2 linked regions of the Homo sapiens genome follow. The protein of the gene in region 1 purifies or fractionates together with the protein of each later gene. This does not show direct contact. Each region holds a gene or a part of one and is shown in the gene's direction. Other genes may lie near its edges.

What was found. Proteins that work in one complex are often made in the same cells at the same time.
Region 2: the proteins of TMEM170A (region 1) and FAM241A purify together in Homo sapiens (affinity purification with mass spectrometry; one large-scale study listed by BioGRID and IntAct). This does not show direct contact.

Annotation. Positions count from the first base shown.
Region 1 is NC_000016.10:75,461,890-75,466,113, reverse strand, and holds the start of TMEM170A (transmembrane protein 170A), read left to right. Parts: upstream 1-1,424; 5' UTR 1,425-1,513; coding exon 1,514-1,646; intron 1,647-1,670; exon of another isoform or gene 1,671-1,863; coding exon of another isoform or gene 1,864-1,882; intron 1,883-2,607; coding exon of another isoform or gene 2,608-2,694; intron 2,695-4,224. UniProt on the Homo sapiens protein: Acts as a regulator of endoplasmic reticulum (ER) and nuclear envelope (NE) morphogenesis. Affects the ratio between tubular ER and ER sheets by promoting sheet formation at the expense of tubules.
Region 2 is NC_000004.12:112,183,454-112,186,953, forward strand, and holds part of FAM241A (uncharacterized protein FAM241A), read left to right. Parts: intron 1-3,239; coding exon 3,240-3,485; 3' UTR 3,486-3,500.

The DNA of each region.
Region 1 (4,224 bases):
GAGGCTGAGGCAGGAGAATCGCTTGAACCAGGGAGGCGGAGGTTGCGGTGAGCTGAGATTTCGCCACTGCACTCCAGCCTGGGCAACAAAGTGAGACTCTGTCTCAAAACAAACCAACCAACCAAACAAAAACATTATTATTCGTCACAAGCCTCTTCATCACCTGGAACCTTGTGGACATTACTTATCCTTGGTAACTTCCCTTCCAGAACACTATTGTTAATGGCTGCTATGGTCTGAACGTGTTCCCCCAAATTCATGTCCTGAAACTTCGTGGGAATGCGATAGTACTGAGAGGAGGGGCCTTTAGGAGACGATTAAGTCAGAAGAGTGGAGCCCCCGTTATGGGATTAGGACCCTTATAAAAGGGATTTGGAGAGTGGGCTCCCTTTGTTACCGTGTGAGGACGCCCGGGCGGTGCTATCAGTGAGGAACGGGCCGTCCTTAGACATGGAACCTGCTGCGACCTTGATCTTGGACCTCCCAGCTTCCAGAACTGTGAGAAAATAAATTTCTGTTCTTAATAAATTGCCCACTCTCAGGTACTTTGTTACAGCAGTGCAAACAAACTGAACATTAGCTTATTCCTTTTTACGATTTCTCTGCCTTCATTTTAACAGGCTTTCTGAAGGGAGGTGAGACAAAAATGTGTGATCCACGAGGACAGGAAATCGAGACCATCCTGGCTAACACGATGAAATCCCGCCTCTACTAAAAATACAAAAAATTAGCCGGGCGTGGTGGCGGGCGCCTGTAGTCCCAGCTACTCGGGAGGCTGAGGCAGGAGAATGGTGTGAACCCGGGAGGCAGAGCTTGCAGTGAGCAGAGATCGCGCGGCCGCACTCCAGCCTGGGTCACAGAGGGAGACTCCGTCTCAAAAAAAAGAAAAAAGTGTGATCTAATTTTATTGCTCTGAACCGAATCTCTGTACATTTTATTTTATTTAAAACTAAGTCGAGCTCTATAGAGGCTACATAGCCTCCCTCCCATTCTGGTCCCACACCAGACTTTGCATGGGCTCTTTCTACTATCAGCTTTAAATAGAGAACGTTCTTGTTCTGTTCATGAAGGTTTCATAAATGCTGGAGTCCAGTCATAACTAGAACTTTACATATCCGTTCCATCACTGTATTTTTCCAGATCCCTGGTAACTCCATAGCGCGGCTCTGTTGGGGCGCATGCAATTCCCTACTTTCTCACAGGGGGCGCTGCAGAGAAGGGCAGAGCAGAGCGCGCGGTCCCAGAGCGCGCCGTCCAGGAGGGGGCGCGTCCGTGGGGCTGTGTCTCTGCGAGCCCTGCGCAACGTTGGGGGCGGGAACAACCCTGGCCCTGCGCCCGAGCGCTGCGGCGCCTTGTGATTGGAGGAGGCAACGGTCACTTGGCAGCGCCGTTGGGATTGGGGGAAGAGGACCCCGGCTGGAGGTGACGCTGAGGCGGCGAGGGTGAGTCGGCGCCGGCCGCTACCGCACTTCGGGCGCTCGTCCCTCATTTCTCTGTGGTGAATGGCGACGGGATGGAGCGCGAGGGGAGCGGCGGCAGCGGCGGGTCGGCCGGGCTCCTGCAGCAGATCCTGAGCCTGAAGGTTGTGCCGCGGGTGGGCAACGGGACCCTGTGCCCCAACTCTACTTCCCTCTGCTCCTTCCCAGGTACGGCCCGCCCCGCGCCTGCGCACTGCGCGCCCCGCCGTCGCCGCTGCCGTGCTGTGGGCGCCCCGAGTCTGGGCGGGGTCCCGGGTGCGCAGCCTGCTGGCGGCGTGGGCGCTGTCCTCCGGGAGGGGGGCCGTGCTGCTCGCCCGGAGCCCCTTTCCCCATCACTTCTTCGGCGGTCCCTGAGGCGGAGCCCCGGAGTCCCGCTGGGCGTGAGATGCAGAGAGCGGCCGCAGGTGGGCCCGGGGCTGGAGGGCGCTCGGCCGCCACCCGAGCGGGTCTTGGCCTTGAGCTTCCGAGCGCCTCAGGTTCAGAGCTGCACCCCACGAGCCCGGGAGGCTGTGGTCCCCGCCCTGCCTGGGTTGCCCCACGGCGCCCGGCCTCCTTCGAGGGGTCTCGGAGCGGCCCGGCCGCGCTGAGGAGTCAGAGCTCGCGCTCCCCTTGCCCCGGGGCTGCAGCCCGGCCCCTCCGCGCAGGCGCTCGTTCGCTGATCGCGGGCGCCTGGGGCTAAATCCTCCCCCTCCGAGACCCGCTCCGCTTTCTAGGAATCTTTCCCAGACCTGGTGCCACCTGTTGCTGGGTCTCCCACTAAGCCTTCGAGATCTTTGGCACAGCTTCCTTTGAACTCTTCCTCCCCGCTGCGGCTTGAGCTGGGCCTGCTAGGAGGGTTGCTCAGAATTCTAATGCCAGGAAGAGCGCTCCGTGCCCTGAAAGCTGGAGGGAGGAGAGAGGACTTCACTTGGGAAGGAGGAGAAAAGCTTTGAGGGGAGGCACAGTTATTTGTGTGGTCCTTGAAAGGCAAGAAGACTAGAGCCCGTGGCCCTGGAAGGGGAGGTGGGGCTCCCAGCAGAGGGGACTGAGGTCTTCATAAACAATGAGGGACCAGAGCAGAGGGAAGGAGGACGAGATTCCAGACTCTAGTTCCAAACAAGGCACCTGTGATTTCTCATCCCCTGGGCAGCGACTGCCAGGCGCCGTTCAGCGGACACCTGGGACTTGCAGTGTTATGTGCCCAGGGATTTTCCCGGACGGGATTGTGAAGTAGCGGGTAAGGTCATCAGGCAGGTTGGGGTCAGATGCAGATGTTCGCTTGTGGTCATTCCTGAAATGAGAATCTGGCAGCTCACGTTATTTCAGAAGGTGCTAGGATCACTTTTGACAGTGATATCAAAAAATTGATGGTATTCTGGTGACCCTGTGTGATACATGAAATGTTCGTGCAATCTGGAGGCACTACTGGGACCAGATTAATCTTTGTTTCCTTAATTTTCCCCTTTCCTGAAAAATGTCAAGCCTGCCAAACAGTTGAGAGAACAGTATAACAAATACCCATGTACCCTTTACTTAGACTCAGTAATATTTTGATTCTTTGGCTTTCTGTTTCTCTTTCTCTCTCTCTGCTCTCTTTCTCTCTCTCTATATATATAACCACATGTATTACATACGTATCACACTTAGATGTAGGTCACATGTCCCATTTCAACTCGAGTCATTCAATAGGAAGTTGCAGAAGTCATAACACTTGCTTGATGCCTGATAATCTTAACATGTATCTTCTAAAAACCATTTTCTATCCATGAAACCATATCACATCCAAGAAACTGAACATCATAGAATAATGTTACCTAATGTGTGGGCCTTGTTTACATTTCCCCAATTGTCCACATAGATTTTTTTCCTTAAAAAAATATATATATTCCATGATCTAAGGTTCACACATTGCATTAAGTTGTCCGTCTCTTTAGTTTCATTTAGCTAAAACAGTTACTTCCTTGTTTGAATTTTTTAAGATGGACATTTTGGAAGAGTCCATGTGAATTGTTGTATAGACTGTTTTACAATCTAGGTTCATTAGATGGTCTTCATGATTAGATTTAGATTAAACATTTTTGGTCAGAACGCTACCTACCTAGGTGACGTCCACTCACCAGTACATCACATCAAGAGACACTGAATGTCAGCCTGGCTCAGTGGCTCACACCTGTAATCCCAGCACTTTGGGAGGCTGAGGCAGGCGTATCACCTGAAGTCAGGAGTTCAAGACCAGCCTGGCCAACATGGCAAAACCTTGTCTCTACTAAAAAGTCAGGCGTAGTGGTGTGTGCCTGTAATCCCAGCTACTGGGGAGGCTGAGGCACGAGAATCTCTTGAACCCAGGAGGCAGAGGTTGCAGTGAGCCAAGATTGCGCCACTGCACTTTAGCCTGGGTGACAGAGCGAGGCTTTGTCTCAACAAAAAAAGAGACATTGAATGTCAATTTGTATCTTCATTGATAATACTAAGTTTGATCATTTGGTGAAGATGGTGTCTATGAAAACTCTACTGTAAGGGTATCTGCATCCTCTCTTTACTACCAAGTTTGATCATTTGGTGAAGATGATGTCTATCAGAACTCTCTACTGTAAGGGTTCCTGCATCCTCTGTTAATTAAACGTCATATGTAGGGTCATAAGTTGGAACTGAATAGTCTGTTGAGTCTCTGGCTTTTAGTTCCCTTTCATTAAGAAAAGATTGAGATAAGTGGATTTGGGATAGGTTTAATACATCACAGTAGGTAATCTGTAGCCATGTGAATTGT
Region 2 (3,500 bases), on another chromosome or scaffold:
GATTTAAGTGTTGCAACACCTCCTTCTTCCCCTGAAAAACCCACAAGCATTTGTAGATTTAATTTATTTTACAAAGAATTTAAACCTTCAGACAGTACCTACCACATCCAGATTAGGGTACTTTCTTCGTACTAAAACCACAAAAATACTGAAAAAAAAAGTCTTAAAAAGCTTCAGTAACAACAAAAAAAACCCCAAAGTACAATGAGTGCATAGATTACAAGAAATTGGGAAGAGTAAAAAAAAAAATTTTTTTAAGAACTTTAATAAAAAATGAAGAAAAAAAGGCCAGAAACAGTATCAACATGCTGAACACTGGAGAAATAGAGAGGGATGAGGGATCAGCAGAATTACATACTAAATCGAGGACTCTTCAAGTTCTACCCTAAAGAAAAGAAAGCTTTAATATTAGGCAAGAATAAGGGTTTTTTTAAAATGTAGTATATTGTTATGGATCATATCAAAGTACAAGAAACATAAAATTGACCCAGTCATAATATATCAGTGAAGGAAAAAATAATTTAGAAATCAATTTTTTAAAAAAAGAAAAGATCCACAAATTATAACTTAAGAGAAAACTATCAGTATCAAAAAAGGATCACATAAATCATTTTATGGATTAGAAAACTGAAGTTCAGGAAAAGTGAAGTAATTTGGCTAAGGTCATGTCACTCAGTTAAAGTGTTGCAGCCTGGATGTGAACTCCCTAGATAACTCTACAACATTTTGTTCTTCTCACTCTTTTTCTGATAGAAGTGAAAATCCAAAAGTAATTTTAAAAATTATATAAAATAGGCCGGGCACAGTGGCTCACGCTGGTAATTCCAGCACTTTGGGAGGCCAAGGCAGGTGGATCACCTGAGGCCAGGAGTTCAAGACCAGTCTGACCAACATGGTGAAACCCTGTCTCTAGTAAATACAAAAGATTAGCCAGGCATGGTGGTGCATGCCTGTAGTCCCAGCTACTTGGGAGGCTAAGGCAGGAGAATTGCTTGAAGTGTGAGGTGGAGTTTGCAGTGAGCCGAGATTGTGCCATTGCACTCCAGCCTGGGCAACAAGAAAGAAACTGTCTCAAAAAAAAAAATTATATAAAAGTATAGCTCAAAAGTAAATCTGGCTTGAACACATGATGTAGACTCAACAAAGATGCCCCAGTGAGTCTCATTTTTCTACTACCTCATCAGTCCCCCTTGGTACTCATTACTGTACATAAATTACTAGTATATGGGAAAAGCCCATTTCTTAAAGTCATACTGAAAATCATTTTGTCTGATTTTCTATTTTAAACAAAAGTTAGATTTTTTTTCACTCTTCCCTTAAAGATTTATTTTAAACTCTATGTGTACAATAGAAAATAAGGCTTCATATAGCCATTTCTTTAATGAAAAAAATATTTTTAATTATTTACTGATCGATGACTGAAATGATCAAGCTTTGGTTTCTACTAAAAGAATGTAAGTTTGATTCAGATGTTTGAAGAATGTCTTAAAATTTCCTCAAATTCATTGGCTGTTTGTGGCAGATGATTTTGTGACACTCCCTTATAAGATAATTAATTTTGCTTTCCTTTGGCCTATACGGCATACTTAATGGTATTTAATACTTATTATGTGAAGCCCTATATCTAAAGGCTTTTTAAACGTATAATAAATTCTCCATCATGTACATACTATGAGCAAATAATTCAATAATTATTTGAATCATGCCTCCTAAATAAAATATATTTAAATAAATTATAATTATCTCACCTACATGACAGTTTTTCTTTTGTGATTCTACTAGGGTCTGGGGCGGTGGGGAGGGGGAGAGAAACTATACCAATTATTTTAACAAAGATAATTTAATATAAGTAATTGTTAACTGGGTATTGGAAAAGCATGGTCACCAGATCAGCATCATAAGCATCACCTAGAAACTTCCTAGAAATGCAAATTCTCAGACTCCAACTTCACCCCTGACTTACTGAATCAGAAACTCTAGTAGTAGGCCCAGCAAGCTGTGCTTTAACAAGCCCTCCAGCGGATTCTAACGCATGCTAAAGTTTAAAAACCACTGCACTAAAATATCACCAAGACAACCACTCATAGGACTGGGCAGAAAGAAAAAGAGATGGATGGACTTACTGAAACTGAGAAGCTTCAAAAAGGCCCCCATGGAACTGAAATTCAGACTTTTGAGAACAGGTCACTGCTTGCCTGGTACTGATTTCTCTGAGTTCAGAGGAGGGAGCCTATAGACCTGGGAACCAGGTATCTGAGGAAGAAGCACCCAGTAATTGGAGCTGGCATCTCAAGAAGGCACATTGAGATTGGTTCTACAAGTGTTGGAAAACCCCCAAATTGCAATCAGCTGCTACTACTAGCAGGCACTATTGCTGTCGGAGTGAAGAATTGTTGCTAGAGTGAGACTTAACAGGATTAAGAAACCCATCCGAAGGAAACAGCAAATTCCTTCTTCCTTCTCTACCTGTGAAGTGTCACGCTGGTCCCTCTATTGGCAGAGCCTAACAGGGAGACAGAAATGCTTGCAGAATTCCAAAGAGTGGGTTTGAAGCCAAGAGACAGTAGCTTACTGTCATGGCCTTAATTATAATACAAGTGGAAGATAATAGAAATAATACTTTAGGTATGTATAATTGGGTGCATGTAGACATTTTCTGGGATACTAACTACTGGGTAGACATTTGGCCTTATTGTAAAAAAAAAAAATTTGTATTAAAACTATTTGTTTCTCCTGATGAAATTAATAAGAGGCATTTAGGGCATCTATATAATGAACAGGAAACTATGCAAGGGCCTGCGCTGAAGTCTGCTTAGCTGAGCCTAAGACAAAGATCACAGCAGTAGTGGCTGAGGATTGCTCAATAATAACAGCAAACATGCTTTGGTCATCTGAGGCTCGGTTTCTTAACGTCTTAGTGTCAAAGGAACCGTCTAAAAAGAATCTTACCAGGACAGAGCAGTCAGGCCTTGCCTCATAAAACAGGAGGGTGGCAGAAAAGGGTGTTCTGAAATCATGGTCACTCACAAGAGAAATACAAACATGATTCTTCACTTAAGCAGTCATTTTTGTGCAATTCCAGGATCAAAAAGAACATTCCCATTGTGTTAACAGGTACTTGTAGAATAATTATCAGAAGTATGCCCAGCACTTTGGAAGATGAAGAACTAAGGTTCTTAAAGACGTTTACATATTTCTCATGTTATGTTCATGTTTTGTCTTTTTTTTTTTTTTTAAAGGATGTTGAAGACTCACAGAACCACACTGGTGAGCCGGTTGGAGATGACTACAAGAAAATGGGAACACTTTTTGGTGAACTGAACAAAAACCTTATCAACATGGGCTTCACAAGGATGTATTTTGGAGAACGAATAGTGGAACCAGTAATAGTCATTTTCTTTTGGGTTATGCTGTGGTTCCTTGGCCTGCAAGCCCTTGGACTAGTTGCTGTTCTTTGCCTTGTTATTATTTATGTGCAACAGTAAAACATGGCCGAATTG